Linked DNA regions of Homo sapiens: regions 1 and 2 are each linked to region 3. The links come from fine-mapping of genetic effects on gene expression. A gene starts in region 3. Each other region holds a variant in brackets. All regions are shown on one strand. Distances are between the middles of the regions.

Region 1 (7,874 bases), 60 kb before region 3:
CCACTCACCGCCTCACCAACTGTTTCAGCACATCAGAATTCAAAAACAATTTTTGTCTCACATTACTTTAGCAGCTTTGACACAAAATCTTTAAGTCTGAAAGAAAAAAATCAAAAGGAAAACATCTGCTGAATATACATATATTCAAAAATATATATATTCAAAAAATATATATTAAAAATATATATATTCAAAAATATATATTAAAAATATATATTTTATTTATTTATTTATTTATTTTTGAGACAGAGTCTCACTCTGTCACCCAGGCTGGAGTGCAGTGACACAATCTCAGCTCACTGCAACCTCTTGACTCCCTGGGTTCAAGCGATTCTCATACCTCAGCCTCCCAAGTAGCCGGGATTACAGGCGTGCACTACCACGCCCAGCTAGTTTTTTGTATTTTTAGTAGAGACAGGGTTTTGCCATGTTGGCCAGGCTGGTCTTGAACTTGTGAGCTCAAGCAATCCACACACCTCGGCCTCCCAAAGTGTTGGGATTACAGGCGTGAGCCACTGCACCTGGCCCATCTGCTGAATATATTATTTTCACTAATAAAAATCCTCTTTTCTTGGAAGTGTCTACTATACATATTTAAATACATCTCAATTAAATTTGCTTCAGAGGAACAAATTCTTCTTCATACGTTATATATACTACGTTCACTTCCCAACAGACTCCACCAGTGTTGGGAAGAAAGGCAGGTATCTGCAACTCTGAAGGCTGTGTGCACAGGGCATGCCGCAGGTGGGTTCTCAATGAGCCGCTCCACATGGGATGCGAGGCTTCTGGCCAAGAGCACGTCTATTAACAGCACTTTTGGGGACATCTAACAGACTCTCCCACGTCCACCAGTTTTTCTGCATTCTTTTCTCATGAAAAAAGAGTGAAAGGCAGAAAGAGAGAGGGAGAGTTGGAAGGATGAGAGGATGGAAGGATGGAGGGAAAGAGGGAGGGAGGGAGGGGAAATGAAGACCAACACTCCTGGAAGCAGAAGCAGACCCAGCCCTTCCCCTACCCTCCCCATGACCAGGGCACTCAGAAGCGCTCACTCGACCTCACAAACTTTTCACCATGGCTTCCTGCCTCCACTCCCTTCTGTGAGTCACCCATGTAAATAAAAGATGACCAGTTTTATGACAAGGAAGACTTGAAGCAATGCATACAGGACAAATGTATGAAGAGAAGCTCAAGGAGGTTGTGTAACAAGCTCTATACCTGGCTGCCGGGAAGAAATGGATTAAAGACAAGGATAATTACACTACTTTATTTAGACTGGAACAAACTGGTTCTTCTCCCCAAAAATCTCATCATTTAGGCTTAACTTTTTTGGTTTGGGAATGGAAGGCAGGGCAATTCAGAGAAATGGAGAAATGATTATATAGGAAAATGTTTAAGGCAAATAACCATAATTTCACATACACACGAAAAATGTCCCAAGTGGCCTGAGACAGGCTAGGAAGACACAGAAGAGAGTAAGGAGGCGCCGAGACACGCCACAACAGGTGTTCTATGGACCGAGTTAGCAGGAATGCAACGACCAGAGTCCAGGCTAAACAGGACCTGGTTGCCAGGAATTCCCTATAAAACAGGGATGTTTTTCCAGGGGCCACCCCAGGACCACCAACACAGTACACTCTGAGAAGACAGGCCGAGGAGGGGTCTCCGGAAGGCCATCTTCCTTGTATACCTTCCAGGGGCCATTTGCACGCACTGGGGGTCATCTGCGCCGTATAATTCTGTATTTAAAACATGTGGTGGTGGTTGATTTTTTTTTTTTAAGTGAACTTGCTGTTTGTGTGAGGAAAGCTCTCCTGACAGAAGAGCACTGGAGGTTCAGGGCAAGGGCTGACCTATGGCTCCCAACCGCCGAGGCCTTTAGATGGGCAGATGCCCAGGCCAACTGAGAGAGCTGACGGTCCCCATGGGCCACTGTGCTGGGACTGCCTATGTCCATTCTCCTCTAATGGCACAGCGGGGAGCAGCGGCGTCTTCAGGGGAGAGTCAGGCACAGCGCTGAGAAGCAGCTCTAGGCTCCCCCAAGTGCATTTTCTCCCAGCTGCTGAGATTCTGGCTAAAATCAGTGGCATCCAGCAGGTGTGGGTGAAAGAGCCATGGTGAATTGCAGGCTTTATGTCTCCCTTCCAGCTCTTCCTCTGACACTGAAAAGGGAGGCTGCTTCTGTCCCTCACCGTACCATTTCTGAGTGATGTCAACTCCCACTTCCATCCGTTCCCCTTGTGGAACTTCCTGCTGCAAAACCAGCAGAGGTCTGATTCCCACAGCAGGTGTGCCTCAGCCTCCAGAGCACAGTCCACCACCTGGGGTGTGGCTCCAGAGCCACTCTGACCGCCAGATCTTCTCTCCGAGGTTTTCTTTTCTTTTTTTCCTTTTTGTCAGATTTCCTCTACTTCATCTTCTGCCTCTTCTACTCAACTTTCTACTTTAGCTTTTATTTTCCAAGACTTTTTGTTTTCTACATATTCTTTTTCTTAAAATTTGTACTCTGTTCTTATTTTGTTCATACACTATACTCTCTGCTCTCTCTTTAGGGATGTGATGTTCTCTCTCTCTCTCTTTTTTTTTTTTGAGACAGAGTATCGCTCTTGTTCTCCAGGCTGGAGTGCAATGGCGCGATCTCGGCTCACTGCAACCTCCACTTCACGGGTTCAAGCAGTCCTCCTGCCCCAGCCTCCCGAGCAGCTGGGAGTACAGGTGCTCATCACTAAGCCTGGCTAATTTTTTGTATTTTTAGTAGAGACAGGTTTTACCATGTTGGCCAGGCAGGTCTCAAACTCCTGACCTCAGGTGATCCACCTGCCTAGGCCTCCCAAAGTGCTGGGATTACAGGCGTGAGCCACTGTGGCCGATGTTCTCTCTCTGAAACCCTTTGTGTCATTCATGATCTCTGCCTTTCCGGATATCATCAGGGGCTGACCTCTCAGGAAGGAGCTGTACCCACCTGTGAGGGGCACCCACAGGGTCCTGGTCTGCCACTGATTTCCTCACCCGGAAGGCTTTTGGGGTCCAGCTGCGGAAACCAGGCAGCAGCTGTGAAACCTGCAGACCCCCGCCTGCGGGGTGGGATCCCCACAGCACCCGACTAACCCCAGGAAGGGGCCCAAGCGGCAGCACAGTGGCACGGGCTCCAAACCATGCTGTAACGTCAGCCACGCCGTAAAGTTGGCCACACCGTAACATCGGCCAGCGGCACCACTCTGGCGCCAATGACATTTCTTTCTGACCCTACCAAATGTTCACAATGCCCCCACCTGAGACTGGGGTAAGACAGGCCTCCTAGAAAAATCTCTGTTCTATTTTTAGATTGCATCTGGGCACTCAGTCTGAATAATGAGTTAATTTGGGGGGAAAAATAAAGTTTTAAAATTACATATTTTGATGTCTACTATGCCCGGACGTCAAACGACTGAGCAAAGCTTCTACACAGCCAATTAAGAGAATGAGGATGGCTCACGCCTGTAATCCCAGCACTTTGGGAGGCCGAGGCGGGCGGATCACGAGGTCAGGAGATCAAGACCATTCTGGCTAACACGGTGAAACCCCATCTCTACTAAAAATACAAAAAAATTAGCTGGGCGTGGTGGTGGGCACCTGTAGTCCCAGCTACTCGGGAGGCTGAGGCAGGAGAATGGCGTGAACCCGGGAGGCGGAGCTTGCAGTGAGCTGAGATGATGCCACTGCACTCCAGCCTGGGTGACAGAGCAAGACTCCGTCTCAAAAAAGAAAAGAGAGAGAGAATGAGGAGAACGCTTTCTATTTAGGGGGAGAAAAACAATTTAAAAGGTGGTCAAACTAATTTCCCTGGAGATCTGTGATAAATACAAAGACATTTATTTCTCTATTGTGAATTAAGTTCTACCAAGAAGACAGTATAAAATCTAAATGTTAAAACCTATACTAACTTATGGGCCGGGGGAGGTGGCTCATGCCTGTAATTCCAGAACTTTGGGAGGCCGAGGTGGGTGGATCACCTGAGGTCAGGAGTTCTAGACCAGCCTGACCAACATGGAGAAACCCCATCTCTACTAAAAACACAAAATTAGTTGGGTGTGATGGTGCATGCCTGTAATCCTAGCTACTCGGGAGGCTGAGGCAAGAGAATTGCTTGAACCTGGGAGGTGGAGATTATAGTGAGCTGAGACCGCTCCATTGTACTCCAGCCTAGGCAACAAGAGTGAGACTCCATCTCAAAAAAAAAAAAAAACAACCTATACTAATTTATAAAAGCAAGCATAACTATGTTAAGAAATGTATTTTTTAAAAAGAAAGAAAGAGAAAGCAATGTCCACAACCTCATCACACTAAATGAGTGTCTGTTCTATCGGGACAGCTCCCTGTGTGCTGGGAGGTGCGAGCCATCAGCAATGAGGCTAAGGAAAGGCGCCCACCTCTCTAGCCTCAACTTCCTCCTCTAGCAACGAAGCAGCACTCCAGCAAGACGGAAGAGCTATAACTCAGCAGCGCCCTTGCTCCCCACACAGGAGGGGCTGTGTCTGCTTGGGAAAGCCTCCTGATCACCACGGAGGGGGCCCGAGCACAGGCCTACAGCTCAGAACACAAAGCCATGGAGACCACAATGGCCTCACACCTCTCGAGAGCAGCCTCAAGGTGGAAGACACAGACACATGTGATGCCTGC[G/A]AAGTCCCAAGGGGAAAGTGGTTTCCAACTAAAATCTCCACACTGGATAAAGCACCAGTCACAGACACACATGGAATAAAGGCACTGATTTCAAAAAACTCTCTCATATACCCCCCTTCCAGCCACCACTGGAGGACACGCGCTACCAAGCCAAACTAAAAAGCCAAGAAAAAGAAAAATGAACGGCTCGGAAAAGCTGGGAGCCAGTCCCAGAAAGGGAGAGGGGATCTCTGCACTTGAAAAGCCATCTCAGAATGAGTGCAGCACAGGACAAATGAGGAACCAACGTGGAAGAGAGGAGGGGAACGATGGAAGGGACAGCGCCAAGGAAAACCAGATCGAGACTACCCGATGCATGTCCGGTACGGAGCTTCATAACGTGGCCACAATATCTGGGGACAAATTAGTGACAGCTACAAAGAAAAGCTAATAAAAAGCAAGGCAATTATCAACTCCAGAGAAAGCAGAAGTTTATGTAAGTGTAGTTCTCAACTACAAGGCTGCTGTCATAGTTACGCAGTCACAGTATTATCAACACCAAATGCTGACTGAACCATAGCTGAAAGGATGGATTTTAACCATTCTAATCAGGATGACGTGGAGCCGGGCGCGGTGGCTCACGCCTGTAATCCCAGCACTTTGGGAGGCCGAGATGGGCGGATCACTTGAGGTCAAGAGTTCAAGACCAGCCTGGCCAACATGGCGAAATCCCATCTCTACTAAAAATACAAAAAAATTAGCTGGGCGTAATGGCTACTCAGGAGCCTGAGGCAGGAGAATCTCTTGAACCCAGGAGGCAGAGGCTATAGTGAGTGAAATCACGCCACTGCACTCCAGCCTGGGTGGCAGAGCGAGACTCCATCCTAAAAAATATATCAAAATAAAAATGAAAAGGATGATGTGGGAGAAAGGAAGACAGTTTGGAAGTATATGTGAGAGAGATGGGTGACAGAGAGAAAGAGGTAATTATGTAAAAGAGTTAAAATTTCAATTTCATAGATGTGATCTAAAGCCAAAAAAGAAAAGAAAGAAATTAGCAATATAAACCTGTGACTTAAGACACATGAAGGCAGATGCTGGAAAAATAATTTTACAAATTTACAATAGTTACCTGACCAAGTGTAATCAGCGGGGCCAGGGCTGGGCTTGGTTTTGGTTGGAGGCTCTATAGAACTGTTTGACTTTTTAAACCTATTACCATAAAATTATCTTGTAATAAAAATACAAGTAAAACTAGTTTTTAAAAACAACGAAAACCAAAACAAACCACAGGACTGAATCTTTGAGTCTCAGGACAAGAGGGATGTGAAGATGTGGACTCAGTGGCTGAGTCACTGGGGAGCTGCCCTCCCAGCCGAGAAGGCAGAGGGGGCCCCTGAGAGCAGGAGACGGAGCTGCTTTAGGCCTCTGCCCCACACGCTCTCTCAGCTCAACTCCTGCAAGTCGCAGTGATGGAAGCCTCTTCCTCAAGCCCTATTTCCTTTGTGAGTGTCCTGGGGCCCTTCAGGGGTCAGCACGGCACAGAGAAGACCAGAGTTGAGAAAGAATGTGGGGACAGAGGGCCCCAGGCCCCACACGAGACATTTCAGGGTGGTAAGGACAGAGGACCCTGAGCCCCACGTGAGCCCCAGGGAGCACAGGCATTTTAGGGAGGGGGTCTTGGGCGGTAGAGACAGAGGACCCCGGGGCCCACGTGAGCCCCAGGGAGCACAGGCATTTTAGGGAGGGGGTCTTGGGCGGTAGAGACAGAGGACCCCGGGGCCCACGTGAGCCCCAGGGAGCACAAGCATTTTAGGGAGGGGGTCTTGGGCGGTAGAGACAGAGGACCCCGGGGCCCACGTGAGCCCCAGGGAGCACAGGCATTTTAGGGAGGGGGTCTTGGGCGGTAGAGACAGAGGACCCCGGGGCCCACGTGAGCCCCAGGGAGCACAAGCATTTTAGGGAGGGGGTCTTGGGCGGTAGAGACAGAGGACCCCGGGGCCCACGTGAGCCCCAGGGAGCACAGGCATTTTAGGGAGGGGGTCTCAGACGGGGAGAAGTTGAGTCAATGTCAAATAAATATCAAAAGACACAGTGGCTTCGGCTGACAGCAGACCATGACAACTGCAACAATGAGAGCTGGGATCCACCGGCTGCTGGGGCTGGAAGACGGTGATGTGGGCAAATCAGTCTGTGCTGCGGCAGCTCAAAGTGGGGACTCGCTACCTACATGGCTTCTTGGGACGGCCTGGACTTGGGAGCTCTGAAAGGAGTCTTTTAACAATTAAACGTGGTTTCCATAAAATATATCAGAAGCCGGTTACCTGTGCACGTAATGAAGCTGATGGATGGAGTCAATGGCCAGCACCATTTCACCAATGTAGAACCTCGCCATATCTTCCGGAAGCTTGTCTTCAAATTTGCTGAGCAGGGTCAGTAAATCACCACCCACATAGTAATCCATGACTAAGTACTACAAATTGGAAAGAGAAGGGGAGAGAATACCACATTTAGTCACCACTAAACCTGACAGTTACAGGCCAGTCTTCCATGGCGAGGTTCTCAGGCTCCAGGTCTGGCTCGTGGCATCTCAGCTGCTCTTCTGTCACCCAAGACCCTCCTTCTGGAACATGCGCCCCGATGCGTCCACGACGCCGCCATCTTCAGGGGTGCATATGGCAGAGAGTGGACTTCAGTAAGTGATGTATTTAATCAATGGGAGGAATGATGAAAGGGCTTGAGGTTGGAGAGGGCACTCTAAAAGCTAGTGACCCAAAGCAGAAGCACAGTTAATAGCCCATCAATCCTATGGGTTTAAAAATAATTCTCCAGGCCCTCATGTTATGTGAGGACGACACCAGACCAGAGAAGGGAGGCAAAGTAGTTAACATCACACATGGTATCAGCAGTTCTTATTGGAAAGATTATATCATAAAAGAGCCGAAAGATAATTACTTATAGGTTCACTCCAACAGAAACCTCAGAAAAGCTCCTACTTAAGTAGAAATTGGAGTAATGGGAGAAAAAACATCTGCTAACAGGGCTGAGCCCGTCACTTCCCCGCGAGTTCCCTCGCCACCGGGCCAGCCGTGTGCTGGGAGTGGGCGACCCCGAGGTGAGCCTGCGTAGAGCTCTGCCTGAGGACAGCCTGTCTCTTGCAGCACTCAGAAAGCTCAGACCACAAAGCCCACAGTCTGTGGAGGCCCCAGTGGGGAGATCTCACAGGTCAGAGAGGC
Region 2 (7,874 bases), 140 kb after region 3:
TCCTCAGCATGGTTGTGGCATTTCCAGTGTTCCCAGAGCGGGCCTCTGTCTGGTCCTCCCAGAAGTCTCTGCAGTCACTCCCCACTGACGCCAGTAGCAGCTGCTTATTTCCCAGGAATGCCATTCCCTCCCCATGCCCAGAGGCACTAAGACCCCAGTTTCCTCCCAATTGGGAAGAGACCTGGAGGGCAGAGGGATTCTCTCTGGCATAGGGCCAAAGGCTCAGAGAGGAGTCCAAGGCTTCCTGGCCCAGCCAGGCCTGTGGAGTAAGATGAGGTCAGGAGATAGGGACAGAGGAGCCCCTGGGATATGGGTGGCACTTGCCGCCTGCAGGAAGCTCACGTTCTGACCTGCAGTTCCCTGTGATGAACTTCAAGAGGGAACTTACTGGGGGAACTCACCACCAATATTTCAACGTAAGTTCTTTCTATTTTCCACAAGTGTCAGCCAGCTGAGAAACATAGAGGGACAGTACAAAGAGAAGAATTTTACAGCTGGGCCGCTGGGGATGACATCACATATCAGTAGGACTGTGATGCCCGCCTGAGTCTCAGACCAGCAAGTTTTTATTGAGGGTTTCAAAAGAGGAGGGGGTGTAAGAACAGGGAGTAGGTACAAAGATCACATGCTTCTGAGGGAACAGGACAAAGGGCAAAAGCAGAACTACTGATGAGGGTCTATGTTCAGCGGTGCACGTACTGTCTTGATAAACATCTTAAACAACAGAAAACAGGGTGCAAGAGCAGAGAACTGGTCTGACCACAAATTTACCAGGGTGGAGTTTCCTAACCCTAGTAAGCCTGAGGGTACTGCAGGAGACCAGGGTGTATCTCAGTCCTTATCTCAACCGCATAAGACAGACATTCCCAGAATGGCCGTTTATAGATCTCCCCCCAGGAACTCATTCCTTTCCCAGGGTATTAATATTAATATTCCTTGTTAGGAAAAGAATTTAGTGATATCTTCCCTACTTGCATGTCCATTTATAGGCTCTCTGCAAGAAGAAAAATATGGCTCTTTTTGCCCGACCCTGCAGGCAGTCAGACCTTATGTTTGTCTTTCCTTGTTCCCTAAAAATCGCTGTTATTATGTTCTTTTTCAAGGTGCACTAATTTCATATTGTTCAAACACACATATTTTATAATCAACTTGTACAGTTAACACAATTATCACAGTGGTACTGAGGTGACATACATCCTCAGCTTACGAAGATAACAGGATTAAGAGATTAAAGTAAAGACAGGCATAAGAAATTATAAAAGTATTATTTGGGAACTGATAAATGTCCATGAAATCCTCACAATTTATGTTCCTCTGCCGCGGCTCCAGCTGGTCCCTCCGTTCGCGGTCCCTGACTTCCCGAAACAGGAATTCCCACTGGGGCTGCCTAACTCTGGTCAGTGAGACCAAATCTGTGATGTAGGAATAAGAAGATCCATGGTGCAGCCACCAAAGTTATCTGCTCCAGCCCAGACGTGATCTGTGACAAAGCTGGCGCTTTCATGTGCATGTTCTTGAGTCCCGTTTGTCATGTTATTTCTGGACTGGTTGGGTCTTGGGCAGGAGGAAGGAGGCTGTCACTTACTGGGTCTTTCCTCTCCTTACATTAACACTACATTGTTCCATGTTATGCTGTAAGCTTTTCAGCTGTAAAGAGCCTCAACAAGCAATTAGCAAATTCATTTCATTAGAATATTAGAAAAATAGGCCAGGCAGCCTGGGTATGGTGGCTCACGACTGTAATCCCAGCACTTTGGGAGGCCAAGGCAGACGGATCACTTGAGGTCAGGAGTTCGAGACCAGCATGGCCAACATGGTGAAACCCCATCTCTACCAAAAATACAAAAATTATATGGACGTGGTGGCAGGTGCCTGTAATCCCGGCTACTTGGGAGGCTGAGACATGAGAATCACTTGAGCTCAGGAGGTGGAGGTTGCAGTGAGCCAAGATCATGCCACTGCATTCCAGCCTGGGTGACAGAGGGAGACTCTGTCTTAAAAAAAAATTATATATATATAAAATATACCAGCCTAAATTAGGGTTTAATTCAGGAAGACGAGCATTGGTTCAGTCACTCAACAGATCAGATATATCAACTTGGCTATGATGCAACAAACACATTCCTAAAATGCGCTGGGCTATGCAAAATTGCACAATAAAAACCACAGGACTTACAAGGAAAAAACGAGGTTGGGGAAGGACACTCAAAACACCCCATCAGTGACACAATTTTTTTAAATGATAGGAACCTAATAAAGAGGGTAGAAGGGTTTTACATGCTAAATTGTTGAGGAATACATCAATACTACAATGAGCATGGCACTTTATTTGAAGGCCTGAAGTTTGCTTGTGGAGTAGATGGAGGAAGGGGTATAGCCTGTGAGATGCCCGAAGCAGGGAACAGGGTCCCCTGGGTCACTGGAGAAAACATGGTTTGGCTCTGTGTTGCCACCCAAATCTCATCTCGAATTGTAATCCGAATGTGTCAGGGAAGGGACCGGGCGAGAGGTGATTGGATCATGGTGGTGGATTTCTCCCTTGCTGCTCTTCTGATAGCGAGTGAGTTCTCATGAGATCTGATGGTTTAAGAGTATGGCACTGGCCAGGCGCGGTTGCTCCCGCCTGTAATCCCAGCACTTTGGGAGGCCGACGCGGGCAGATCATGAGGTCAGGAGTTTGAGACCAGTCTGGCCAATATGGTGAAACCCCGTCTCTACTAAAAATACAAAAATTAGCTGGGTGTGGTGGTGTGCGCCTATAGTCCCAGCTACTCGGGAGGCTGAGGCAGGAGAATTGCTTGAACCGGGACCCCAGAGGCAGAGGTTGCAGTAAGCCAAGATCGTGCCACTGCACTCCAGCCTGGGCTACAGAAAGAGACTCTGTCCCACCCCACTGTCTCTCTCCTGCCACCATGTAAGACATGCCTTGCTTCCCCTTCACCTTCCTGCATGATTGTAAGTTTCCCAAGTCCTTCCCAGCCATTTGGAACTGTGAGTCAATTAGACCTCTTTTCTTTATAAAGTACACAGTCTTATGTAGTTCTTTATAGCAGTGTGAAACTGGACTAATGCTCAATGGGTATGGCTCACAACCCAGCGGGAAACTGAGGCCACTGGCGGATTCTGAGGTGTGTGCACATGCACTGTGTGCATTCCTGTGCACCTCAGTTCCACTGGGGGTGTTTCTGGTGTTCACCTGGTGTTTCCTACAGACAATCACACATAAGCAATTGCAAAATTCATGTTGTGCTCAAATTGTTCCCTAATTGTCCAAATGCATTGGAACGAATTGACATTTTCTTTTTTTCTTTTTTTTTTTTTTTGAGATGGAATCTCATTCTGTCACCCAGGCTGGAGTACAGTGGCATGATCTCAGCTCACTGCAACCTCCACCTCTGGGGTTCAAGTGATTCTTCTGCCTCAGCCTCCCAAATAGCTGGGACTACAGGCGCACACCACCACACTGGCTAATGTTTATATTTTTAATAGAGATGAGGTTTCACCGTGTTGGTCAGGCTGGTCTCAAATTCATGACCTCGTGATCCACCCGCCTCGGCCTCACAAAGTGCTGGGATTACAGGTATGAGCCACCGCACCCAGCCGAGTTTACATTTCAAAGCAAGCACTGTAATAGAATTGCAGTCATGTAATACCCACCATGTGATAGGCGCTGTGCTAGACGCTGCAGACGCAGCAGCGAGCCATGTGCAGCCCCACCCTCGTAGGAGTTACCTGGCAATGGGGGAAGCAATCAACAAATCAATAATCTCATTTCAGGTGATGAGAAGTGCTGTAAAGGAAAAAGGAACAAGGCAGGACAGCAAGGGATGGCTTTGTGGTAGCATTTTTTTTTTTTTTTTTTTTTTTGTAGGTCTATGTATTTGCTTCCTGGGGCAGGCGTTTACAAAGTGCCACAGCCTTGGTGGCTTCAACAGAAATGATTATCTCCCAGTTCTGAAGGCCAGATGTCTGAGATCCAGGTATCAGTAGGGGTGGTTCCTTCTGGGAGTTGGGAGGAAAGATCCGGTCCGGGCCCCTCCCAGCTGCGTGTGATCCGCTGGCAGTGTCTGGCTCCTGGCTGGTGGACACGTCTCTGCCATCCCTGCCTCCGTCTTCATGTGCTGTTCTCCCTGCGTGCATGTCGTTGTCCAAATTCCCTGTTTTACAAGGACGCCAGTTATAGTGGATGAGGGGCCCAACAACTCCAGTATGACCTCATCTTAACTAATGACATCTGCAATGACCCTGTTTCCAAATAAGGTCACATTCCGAGGTACTGAGGGCTGGGAACTCAACGTATGAATTTTGAGGGGATATGGTTCTACCTACAACAGTTGGTAAGGGAAGCCCCCTTTAAGTAAGTGACATTTGAACAAGAGGCCCCCATTCCTGACCCCTAAACCACTTCCAAAACTAAACTACTTGCACACCAGCCTATGGCCCACATCATAGATTCTGCTTGTGGAGGGGATCCGAATTTAGAGAGTACAGAAGTGGCCCTAAAAGGCAGAACCTCAGGGCAGGAGAGCACACACCCTGCAGCCCCACTGTCAGGACCCTGTTGCTGGGGGGAGTGAGCAGGTGCTGAGCCTCGGCCTGCAGGACAGCTGCCACGGCTCCCAGGGCGGATGACGATATGCACGTTGGGAAGTGAGGCCTGGGTCCATGTGGTAGAGGGGTGCTTTTTATTTTATTTTATTATTTATTTATGACAGAGTCTCACTCTTGTCGCCCAGGCTGGAGAGCAGTGGCACGATCTCGGCTCACTGCAACCTCCGCCTCCCAGATTCAAGCGATTCTCCTGTCTCAGCCTCCC[G/C]AGTAGCTGGGAGTACAGGCACCCACCGCCACGCCCAGCTAATTTTTTAGCAGAGATGGGGTTTCACCATTTTGGCCAGGCTGGTCTGGAACTCCTGACCTCAAGTGATCTGCTTGCCTCGGCCTCCCAAAGTGCTGGGATTACAGGCGTGAGCCTCCACACCCAGCCGGGGCGGGGGTGAGGGGAGTACTTTAAAAGCACTGAAGCAATAGTCAGAAGAACTGTGGGGTTGGCCCACTTAATGGTTTTAAAGGCCTCAAAATAATAATAATAACAGGCTCAAGTGAGCCAACTATCAATGTAAGACACTCTATGAGAGTCCGAAGCCTTCGGGGCAGCATGAAGAGCTCTTAGCTCTGCGGGTACAGGGTGGTTTATGATGAAAACCAGGCCCAGGAGTATTCACGACTCTGAATAATGTTCATTTCATCTCTCTCTTCAGCCATGTTTAATGTACTGTCTAATCTATTAAAGACAAACTATTTCTCACATTTCTGACACTAAATGAGGGGGGGGATGTCCCACACCAACCGATCATCCAACTCTCCGCACGCCAACTGGGTGACCTGCAATTCAATTTGGACATGAACTCCTGGGAGGTAACCCAGACCCTACAGATTAACGGCTCAGTCCCACCAGACCACCCCCAGTTCAGAAGCCAAGTGCACGTCTCAGCCTCTCATTTGTTTGTTTGTTTGTTTTTTAAAACTGAGTCTTGCTCTGTCACCCAGGCTGGAGTGCAGTGGCACGATCTTGGCTCACTGCAACCTTGGCCTCCCGGGTTCAAGCGATTCCCCTGCCTCAGCCTCCCGCATAGCTGGGGTTACAGACACCTACCACCATTGGTCCTCCCATACTCTGACCAACTGGCTATAAATCAAGGGTTCCCACGGCCCCTCCCCAGGTTCAGTAATTTGCTGTAGGGCTCACAAAACTCAGGGGTACACTTACATTGACCAGTTCATTAGAAGGCTGCAACTGGACAGTCAGATGAAGAAGTACATAGGGTGAGGTCTGCAGGTCCCTATGGCAGGGGCTTCTGTCCCCAGGGAGTCAGGTGCACCGCCCTCCTGACACGTGGATGTGCTCTCCAAACCCCTCCGTTTAGGGTTTTCATGGAGTTTCCATTATGTACATGGGCATGATTAACTTACTGACCATCAGTACTTAACTCAACCCCAGCCCTCTCCTCTCCCTGGAGGTCAGGTAGGACTGAAGGTTCCAGCCCTCCAATCACATGGGGGCCTCCTCTGCAGCCCCCAGCCTGCAGCTACCTAGGGGCTTCAGCCACCAGTCCTCTTGTTAACAGAAATTCAGCTATGGCTGAAAGGGGCGTGTTATAAATGTTAATGTAAAAACTAAACTCTGTAGAATGTTTTGCAGGGATTTATTCTGAGCCAATATGAGTGACCACAGCCAGGAGCAAACACAAACCCAGGAAGCTTTGAGTAACTGTCCCAAGGTAGTCGGATTACAGTTTGGTTTAACACATTTCAGGGAGGCAGGAGTTACCGGCGAAGACATAAATCAACACATGGAAGGTATAGGTTGGCACAGCCTGGAAAGGCAGGATATTTTCAAGCGGTGTCAGGGTGGGGATGTTATAAGGCACAGGAGCATTCGGAGATTCTTTAATTTGCAGTTGGCTGAAGGAACAAAACTTTGTCTAAAAACAGAGTTAGCAGAAAGGAATGTTTAAGGTAAGATGAGGATGCTGTGTCAGAGTCAGCCACCGTATACCAGGTCAAAAATGACCTAGTTAGCAAGATTGATGGCCTGCAGGAGTGACCTCATCCTTGTTTTGCAAGACCTTCGGTCCTGTTTGTAATTTGGTCTGTTATTGCACAAACAGTCTGCTCTTCGAATCTTATGATCTCTGTTTTAACATTAGCACTAGTCGGTTCTATCTAAACTGCAAAAGGGAGAGGTTTGAAGGAGGTCCGTCCCCTCCTGGCAGGAAACTCAGTTTTTAGTTTCTCTGGGGTCTCCTTGGCCAAGAAGAGGTCTGTTCAGTCAGTTGAGGGGCTTGGGATTTTACATTTAGTTTACGTGAATATCAAAAGATGCTCTTCTCATCCCTATCATTCAGGAAATTCCAAGGGTTTTAGATGCTCTTGGGTCAGGAGCCAGAATGAAGACCAAATATGTGATTTCTTTTCTGGGAAGTATTTATACACTCCTCCCTCGGTATCTGTAAACCATTGGTTGCAGAACCTCCCATAGTTACCAAAATCCACAGATGCTCACGTCTGGTAAAAGAAAAACTTTAGGCCGGGCGTGGTGGCTCATGCCTGTAATCCCAGCATTTTGGGAGGCTGAGGCTGGCGGATCACAAGGTCAGGAGTTCAACCTGGCCAAGAGACCAGCCTGGCCAATATGGTGAAACCCTGTCTCTACTAAAAATACAAAAATTAACCGGGCATGGTTGCGGGTGCCTGTAATCCCAGCTACTTGGGAGGCTGAGGCAGGAGAATTGCTTGAACCCAGGAGGCGGAGGTTGCAGTGAGCCAAAGATTGTGCCATTGCACTCCAGCCTGGTTGACAGAGTGAGACTCTGACTCAAAAAAGAAAAGAAAAGAAAAGAAAAACTTTAGGTAAATTAAATTTAAAAAGAAAAACTTTAGGCAAATTAAATTTATCAGTATAGGCTGGGCACAGTGGCTCATGCCTGTAATCCCAGTAATTTGGGAGGCTGAGGCGGGTGGATCACTTGAGGCCAGGAGTTTGAGACCAGCCTGGGCAACACAGTGAAACCCACAGTGAAACTCTACTAAAAATACAAAAAAAAAAACTTAGCTGGGCACAGTGGTGCATGCCTGTAATCCCAGCTACTTGGGAGCCTGAGGCACGAGACTCACTTGAGCCTGGGAGGCTGTTATCTTTGTTTTAAACTATAAACTATGAACTAAGTTTCTCCCAAAGTTAGTTCAGCCTACACCCAGGAATGAATAAGGATAGCTTGGAGGTTGGAGGCAAGATGGAGTCCTTTAAGTTGGACCTCTTTCATTGGCTCAGTCATAATTTTGCAAAGGCGGTTTCAATATTTGCATATAACCTA
Region 3 (7,874 bases):
TAAGCTGTGGGAAAAATATTTAACACATAAGACAGTATTTGTATATGACAAAGATGAAAGACAACAAATTCATCTCACTGGGTTGTCCGTATTTGTTGCTATTTACTTTTGGAAACTGTAAAGTGTTTCATATGTTCTGCTTCAAATGGTATCAAGATATTTTCAAAATAGCTTAAAGAAATATACATGCAAGGCCAGGCGTGGTGGCTCACGCCTGTAATCCCAGCACTTTGAGAGGCCGAGGAGGGTGGATCACGAGGTCAGGACTTTAAGACCAGCCTGGCCAAGATGGTGAAACCCCGTCTTTACTAAAAATACAAAAATTAGCCAGGCGTGGTGGCAGGCACCTATAATCCCAGCTACTCGGGAGACTGAGGCAGAGAATTGCTTGAACCCGGGAGGCGGAGGTTGCAGTGAGCCAAGATCGCACCACTGCACTTCAGCCTGGGCAACAGAGTGAGACTCCGTCTCAAAAAAAAAAGAAAAGAAAAGAAAAGAATACACACGCAAAGCTGGGCATTAAGGTTCAAGATTTCATAGAGGAAACCAATCAAGCTATAGGAAAATTAAAGACAAAAACCTACAATGAAAGTTGAAATGACTCGGCCAGGCACGGTGGCTCACACCTGTAATCCAAGAACTTTGGGAGGCCAAGGGGGGCAGATCACGAGGTCTGGAGATCGAGACCATCCTGGCTAACACGGTGAAACCCCGTCTCTACTAAAAATACAAAAAAATTAGCCAGGCGTGATGGCGGGCGCCTGTAGTCCCAGCTACTCAGGAGGCTGAGGCAGGAGAACAACGTGAACCCGGGAGGCAGAGCTTGCAGTGAGCCGAGATCCCGCCACTGCACTCCAGCCTGGGCGACAGAGTGAGACTCCGTCTCAAAAAAAAAAAAAAAAGTTGAAATGACTCTTGTCCCATGCGACCACTGTGGCAATAAGAAAATATGAGCCAAAAATAATCATATTTTATTTATTTTTGAGACAGGGTCTCACTCTGTTGCCCAGGCTGGAGTGTAGTGGCATGATCATTGCTCATTGCAGCCTTGACCTCCCAGGCTCAAGTGATCCACCCACCTCAGCCTCCAGAGTAACTGGGACTACAGGTGTGCGCCACCATGCCCAGCTAATTTTTATATTTTTATAAAATTTTATTTTGACATTTATTATAGATACTGGGTTTTGTCAGGTTGCTCAGGCTGGTCTTGTCTTCCTGAGTTCAACCAATCCTCCACCTTGGCCTCCCAAAGTGCTGGGATTACAGGCATGAGCCACTGCACCAGGCCATAATCTTCCTTTAAAACTTAAAAAGTTTACTACCTATACTTTCCAAATTTCCTCACATATTCCCCATTAAGCCTCCAAATCTGGGCTGAATCAGCTACTTTTCTTCCTTAAGTTTCAAGAATTCTCCATAATTGTCATTAGATACCTGGCAAGATTTGGGAAGTGGGGAAAGGTTGGCTTTTCCACGTGACAGGAATCGACATATCAGAGGTTTCAAATGTCATGGAGTGGTGAATCCAAAAACTGAACAGTCCACTGATGGACAGCCTATATGTGTTTCCTGAGCAGAAGTAATTCCACTTGGAAGTTAGAGTACCTAATATTGCTCTATAAATAGTTTTATTCAAAAACATTATTCTGTGCTTTCCAATCGAAACAACCAGGCAATTCCAAGCAACATTAAATACTAACTGCACACATGTTAACTAGAAATACACCACTTTAGAGTTACAATGACGTATATGTTAACATAAATGAGTTTAAATACTTGTAAAATATATTGATATTTCATTAAAACACCACCTTCTAAGTCCATTCTTCCCTATAATTGAAAGTTTATACTTTTGTGCAAACTGAGTTCCTGAGAATAATGTAGTTTGTAATCACAATTTCCAAAGAGCCAGAATACAACTTTGAAAATATGTCTATGTTACAGCACAGTTCCCGTTTAGATTTGGAAAGGCCAGATCTCATAAAATATGACCTCCACACATGCTGACAAGAGCTTCCTCCAGGGAAGCCCACCAGTAATGCCTGGTGGAGAGAGGTGGCTGCACAATGGCCCCCAGGGCCCCCGCCCTCAGACTAATCTTCTAGGTCCCAGGCCAGAGGCCAGTGGGACCACATCTTCCCAGCAAAACCAACTTTCCCTCTGCTTCCTCTTCCCAGTCACACTCACAGGTGGTGCACCAAGTTGAACCTGACAGTGGAACTGTGTGGGTTTCAAGATCGAGTGATCAGAAAGGAACGGTAAACAAGCTGGGTGCAGTGGCTCACGCCTGTAATCCCAGCACTTTGGGAGGCCGAGGCAGGTGGATCACCCGAGGTCAGGAGTACAAGACCAGCCTGGCCAACACTGTGAAACCCCTTCTCCACTAAAAATACAAAAATGAGCCGGGCATGCTGGTGCGTGCCTGTAGTCCCAGCTACTCGGGAGGCTGAGGCAGGAGAATTACTTGAACCCAGGAGATGGAGGTTGTAGTGAGCCAAGATCATGCCACTGCACTCCAGCCTAGGCAACACAGTGAGACTCGTCTCCAAAGAAAAGAAAGAAAAGGTAAACAAAATATTCAGATTTTAACATGCACCAAAGACCTCACTTTCAAAGCAACGGTGAAGTCAATTAATTATTCAGTTGGAAATCGTGTCACTGACAAAGGACGCTAGAAAGCAAATACTCTTAATTTACTGATACTATAAGTAACCAAGAATGGTGGTTCCCACGGAAATAAAGCATCACAGGCTGTCCTTGATCTCAGGACCTCTTTCTACTGCTGCTCTCACAAGATACCGTGTAACATTTCACTACAGAGTAATCCAACAGAAGCCCTCTAAAGAATATTGCAACTTAAGTTTTATTTGTAAACAAAATTCCAAATTCCAGTCACCAATCTGGCAGAGTAGAGTAGGAGGCCTGGAGGCCTCACTGTGGAACACTTTCATTTGTTTCTTCGTATAAATATCAGCTTTATCAGCCCCAAAGATTAGAAATTACTGGTTCGAACTGAACAGTCCTAGCCCAGTGACGCAAATGACCCAAGGATAAGGTTTTCATAGGTTTGGCCTGAACATACGCATTTCCTCCTCCTACTCAGTGGTTTTAGGTGAGACAGTCTGAGGGTCTTGACCGGCACACCCGTTAGGGAGAGATGAAGTAAAAGAGTTTCACGCTGCACTTTTACCTGTCTTTAGGATCCTAATTATCGTTAAATGGTTTAATCAAATTTTTGTCCTAAAAAAGCATAATAGGTTAGCTGACCAATGATTAAAACATTATAGATCCGGAACGAACTAGAGAAGGCATGCAAAATTCAGATGAGAAAGTTTCTAAGTGATAGCTCCAGCTACCCCTCCAAATATCACAAAGGTCTAGCAGAATTGGAATTAAAAAAAAAAAGTCCTCTTGCACGGTTTATTTAAAATAAAGCCTTAACCTTAAAATTCCCTTGAAGGTGTTACAGCAAAGTAGGTATTCAGGCTCTGACCAACAAGGGGATGTAGACAGGCTGTCACCCAGGAGGGGCCGTTAGAGCTGGGCTCCCTGGGGATGCAAGGGGGTCCCACGGGGCAGTGGGCGAGGCAGATGCAGAAAGCACACCCAGCTGCCCCCACAACGCAGAGAAGCGTGGGGTGGGGAAAGGGAACTAATTCCACACTGCCTCCGGACCCCAAAGGCGAGGTGCGGGGGCGGGGGCGGGGGCGGGGGCGGATATCCCAGTGAGTGCTGCAGGAAATGATATCCAGACTCGGAGGGTGGATCTAGGAAGCCGCCAGGGCGAGGGCCCGGCGGGGGGGAGGGGGTGGGAGTGGGAACGTAGGATGTGGCTCCAAGGGGCAGGATGAGGGGGCGGGACGATCGAACGCGGATGTCGAGCCTAGGGAGGGCAAGGAGGGATGAAAAGCTAGCGGAGGGACGAGGGTGCAAGGAGCGGCTGGAGAGAGATGGGCTGCGGGCCTGGGGGCGCTGCCAGAGCGAGAGGAGGCGAAGCCCACGAGCTGGGTGGGCAGGAGGGCGGCAGGGTCTGTCCGGGCGGGGATGGGCGGGCGTGGGGATGCGCGGGCTGGGGCGCGGGGGTCGCAGAGCCGCAGGTCCGGCCCTGCCGGCGCGCACTTACCCCACTCGAGGAACTCGGCCACGTACTTGTCGCGGCGCAGGGCCGAGTGGCTGCACTCGGTGTACAGGCAGACGAGCACGTCGAGCAGCGTTTCCACGCTCAGGGCGCTCTCGTTGCGCCAGGGCCCGTCCAGGAGCAGCTGCTCCAGCTTCTTGAGCCGCACCTTGGCCGACATGGTGCCGCGCGGCCCGCTCCCGACGCGCCGGCCTCTCACCGCCGGCTCGGCCAGTCCGTCAGGGCGCGCCCTCGGGGGCTCGGCGGCTGCGAGCCCCGGCAGCAGCGGCGCCTCCTCGCCGCCCCGTCCGCGTCGTCGCGCCCCGGCCTAGGCCGACATCTTGGGCTCCGTCCCGACGGCGCAGAGTCTGGGGCGCCGGGCCCCGCGGGTCCATGGGCCGCTCTCCTCCCCTCGGCGCCGCCGCCCTCCCAGCTCGGGCGGCCCGCCCCCGCCGCCCTCAGCCCCGCCCGCGGCCGCGCCCTCCCCGCCGCCGCCGCCGCAGACTAGGAGCGGCGAGGAGCCTAGCGCTGCGCAAGCCCGGCCGGCGCCCGAGCCCGACCCCAGCCCCGACCCGGCGGCCCAGCCCCGCGGCCCGCAGCCAACCAGGGCGCGGCCAGCACCAGCGCAGCCAACCACTACGGGGCCGGCCGCCGCCGCGCTGACCTCAGCGCGCCGCCCCGCCCCGCGCCCGGCTCCCTGCTCCCGGCGGGCTCGGGCCTCGCCGCTTGCCGTAGGGAGCCGGGATGCTGGGAAGGCAGGGCCGGGCCTGGGGAGCGGCGCGGGGTGGGGGTGGGGGGGGCGGGGCGGGGCGAGTGGGCCGCTGAGATTGCGGAGCCCGCGCATGCGCAGAGCGCGCCTGGTGGGCGTGTGCGCCTTCGCCCTGCGGACCCGGTGCCTTCAGTATTCGGGGTCCGACCGCGCGCGTCGCGGATCCCGGGGCCGAAGACGACCCCAAGTATCGGAGAGGCAGAGTCGCGATCTCAGGCCGTCGAGCCCCGTCCCGCAGTCCGCGGGCCCATGTTGCCTGCGGGGCCTCGGACCTGCCCGGCCGAGGTGGGGGTCGAGGGCGGCCCGGCAGGCGCAGCTCTGATGGCCTCGGCGGGTTGTGGGCTATTTAAAACGGCTTGTCCCAGCTCGAAGCGGTCCTGGAAGACTCGGGCCCTACCCCTGACTTTACCGATGAGAGACTGAGGCCCAGACGGTGTGGGGTCAGGGCCCAGGCTTCTGGGGGATGCTGCCAAGGCGGGAGCCAGCGTCCCCAGTGCCCGGTGGATTCGTGATGGCTTGCAGAGGGTTTCAGTTTCCACTGTCCAGCCCTCCCTGCAGACCAATGCCTAGGTGTGACAGTTTGGTAGGAAAGGGGCCGGATATTTGTCTCCAGGCTGGGTTTGCCTAGCGAGTCGCTGCATTTACTAAGATTGTTGGTTAATTTGGGTGGCTGGGGGAGGGAGGCTGATGGAGATACCCCCCAACCCCAACAAACCCTTGGCGTCAGGAGAGGAGGGGCTTTTCCTGGAGCTTGCGGAAGGTCACCGAAATCGTGGGGGTATCTGAGAGCTTCTGGGGCGCGCGGGTGCAGGGGAAGGGGTCATGCTTCCGTGGAAGCGGTGGCCTCCAGGTGGAGCCGATGAAGGGGCAGATAGGGGTTTGAAGCAGGACGTTAAGGGAGCCTGAAGCAAAACTAATCTCTGGAGCTAAAAATAGGAGTGGGCCTGGCGCGGTGGCTCACACCTGTAATCCCAGCACTTTAGGAGGCCGAGGTGGGCGGATTGCCTGAGCTCAGGACTTCGAGACCAGCCTGGGCAACACGGTGAAACCCCGTCTCTACTAAAATACAAAAAACTAGCCGGGCGTGGTGGCGCGCGCCTGTAGTCCCAGCTACTCGAGAGGCTAAGGCAGGAGAATTACTTGAACCCGGGAGGCGAAAGTGCAGTGAGCCAAGATCGCTCCACTGCACTCCAGCATGGGCAACAGAGCACGACTCCGTCTTAATAATAGTAATAATAATAAGAAGAAGAAGAAGAAGAAGAGGAGTGGCTGCCTATGCCGGAGTTGTTGACTGGAACAAGAGGAGGAACCTTCTGGGCTGCTGGTAATGTTCTATGCCTGGATTTGGGTAGTAGTTACATGGGAGCACGCATAAGTAAACATTCTTCAAACTGTCTTCTTAAGATGAGTGCATGTCACTGTGTGTATGTATATATAATACCTTCATTTCTTAAAGGCAGGTGAGAACAATCTGGCGTTAGAGGTGAGAGTACTGGTTGCCTTTGGGGTATCAACTGGAAGGAGGCACAAGGAGAGGCCTCTAGGGGGCTGGGAACATTCTGTATCTTCAGCACAGCCGTTTTGTAACGTTGGGTCTGTAAATGTGTATAAATTCATCAAACTGTATTCTAAATATTTGCATGTTACTATTTGTGTATGACACCTTAAAAGTTTTTTTTAAAAAGTCTGAGCAGATCACCTGGCTCAAAATCAAAGTTAAATCTTCCCCCTTGGACCCCTTAGGGCCTGAGATGAGCAAGGGGAAAGGGGGCTGTGCCTGGTGCCATCTCCTTCCCCAAACCTCCCTCGGCTCGCTCAGCCCACTTCCACCCATCTAGAACCACCACCGGGAAGGGAGAAAGGGAGAAGTGGGGAAGGGCTCCAATCCCATCTGGATTGGCAGAGGGTAAAGCTGACCCTGTCTCTCCTGGGAACATTCATGGGCTCCTCGGTGGTTCCCTGCTGCTTTGTCTCCTGAAGTCCCCTTAACTCAAGCAGATGTGCCACTGGGTGGATGCTTACCTGGTGGCTGTGGAGGGGAGGGGCCCTCTGCCCTTCCTGAGGGACTTTTGGACAGGACCTAAATGGATCCATGGGTCTTGTGCTTGCTCATCCACCCAGCTCACATCTGTCCTCAGGAAACACTGGCACACTCCTCGCCCCAACATTAGTGAACAGGTGGGTCCCAGCACAGCAGCATAGCTCTGCCTCTGAAACAGCACATGAGCCCTTCCTGCCACTGTGCCCTCCAAATTGAGTGCCAAATATTGAGCTCTCTGAGAAATCCCTTGGAAGCCACCCTCACAGGCTTAAAGTGAAGGAAGGAGTGCCTGTCCTCTGTGTCCCCTGGCAGGATCACCTGACCAAACTTTCTCTTCCACTCTCATCTTTTATTCCTGAGTGTGGGACAGATTCCCAAACATTTCTCTTGACAATCTGCCCATGGCGATCTGACATAGCATTTGAGAATTCCACATCTGCTCTCTCTTCTTGCCTCCTGGAAATTTCCATTTACTGTTCTTATACATTTACAAATGTACAACAAAGGTCATCGTGCCTTTGGTGGACAGTCCTTGTATTCGTCTGCCCTCGCTTTCTCTCTCTCCTGAGCCCCATGCCCTGTGAGTCTGTGCTCCAGCTCCACTCTGATCATAGGATTCTAGAGGGGCTGGCACCAGGGTGGACATGTGACCCAAGACCCTAGCAGCACTTCATCCCCCTTCAGTCATGTGACTGAAGCCAGGCCAATCAGAGAACTTATTTGTTTATGTATTCATTTATCTATTTATTTTTTAGAGACATGGTCTTGCTCCGTCATACAGGCTGAAGTGACTTGGCACAATCATAGCTCACTGCAGCCTTGAACTGCCAGGCTCAAGTAATCCTCCCATCTCAGCCTCCACAGTAGTGGGGACTACAGGTGTATGCCACCACATCTGGCTAATTTAAAAAAATTTTTTTAGAGAAGGAGTCTTGCTATGTCGCCCC

Direction of the effects. Alleles are on the strand shown, and positions count from the first base shown. SD is a standard deviation of normalised expression in the study named. Not every link is listed here.
With allele G in place of A in region 1, the expression in monocytes of the gene that starts at base 4,674 in region 3 is higher (large effect, 1.5 SD a copy in Schmiedel 2018).

The links. PIP is the estimated chance that this variant, and not a neighbour inherited with it, causes the effect. A credible set is the group of variants that fine-mapping cannot tell apart.
Region 1: its variant is the best candidate, but not a certain one, in a credible set for the expression of CDC42BPB in monocytes (Schmiedel 2018, PIP 0.74).
Region 2: its variant is the best candidate, but not a certain one, in a credible set for the expression of CDC42BPB in whole blood (TOPMed, PIP 0.51).

The regions. Positions count from the first base shown.
Region 1 is chr14:102,992,603-103,000,476 of GRCh38, forward strand. It overlaps CDC42BPB (CDC42 binding protein kinase beta), which reads right to left. Exons shown (of 37, transcript NM_006035.4): 5 at 6,963-7,111. Among named protein-coding and RNA genes, the nearest start is that of CDC42BPB, 61 kb to the right of the region's middle. RefSeq lists an enhancer at 5,799-6,345. The variant G/A (reference allele first, on the strand shown) is at 4,660.
Region 2 is chr14:103,192,319-103,200,192 of GRCh38, forward strand. It overlaps LOC124903391, which reads right to left. Exons shown (of 2, transcript XM_047432044.1): 2 at 3,877-4,157. Among named protein-coding and RNA genes, the nearest start is that of LINC00605, 7.2 kb to the left of the region's middle. The variant G/C (reference allele first, on the strand shown) is at 4,817.
Region 3 is chr14:103,052,876-103,060,749 of GRCh38, forward strand. CDC42BPB (CDC42 binding protein kinase beta) reads right to left here and starts at 4,674. Exons shown (of 37, transcript NM_006035.4): 1 at 4,124-4,674. The coding sequence starts at 4,298. RefSeq lists silencers at 4,346-4,425, 4,516-5,015, 5,056-5,165 and an enhancer at 5,161-5,811.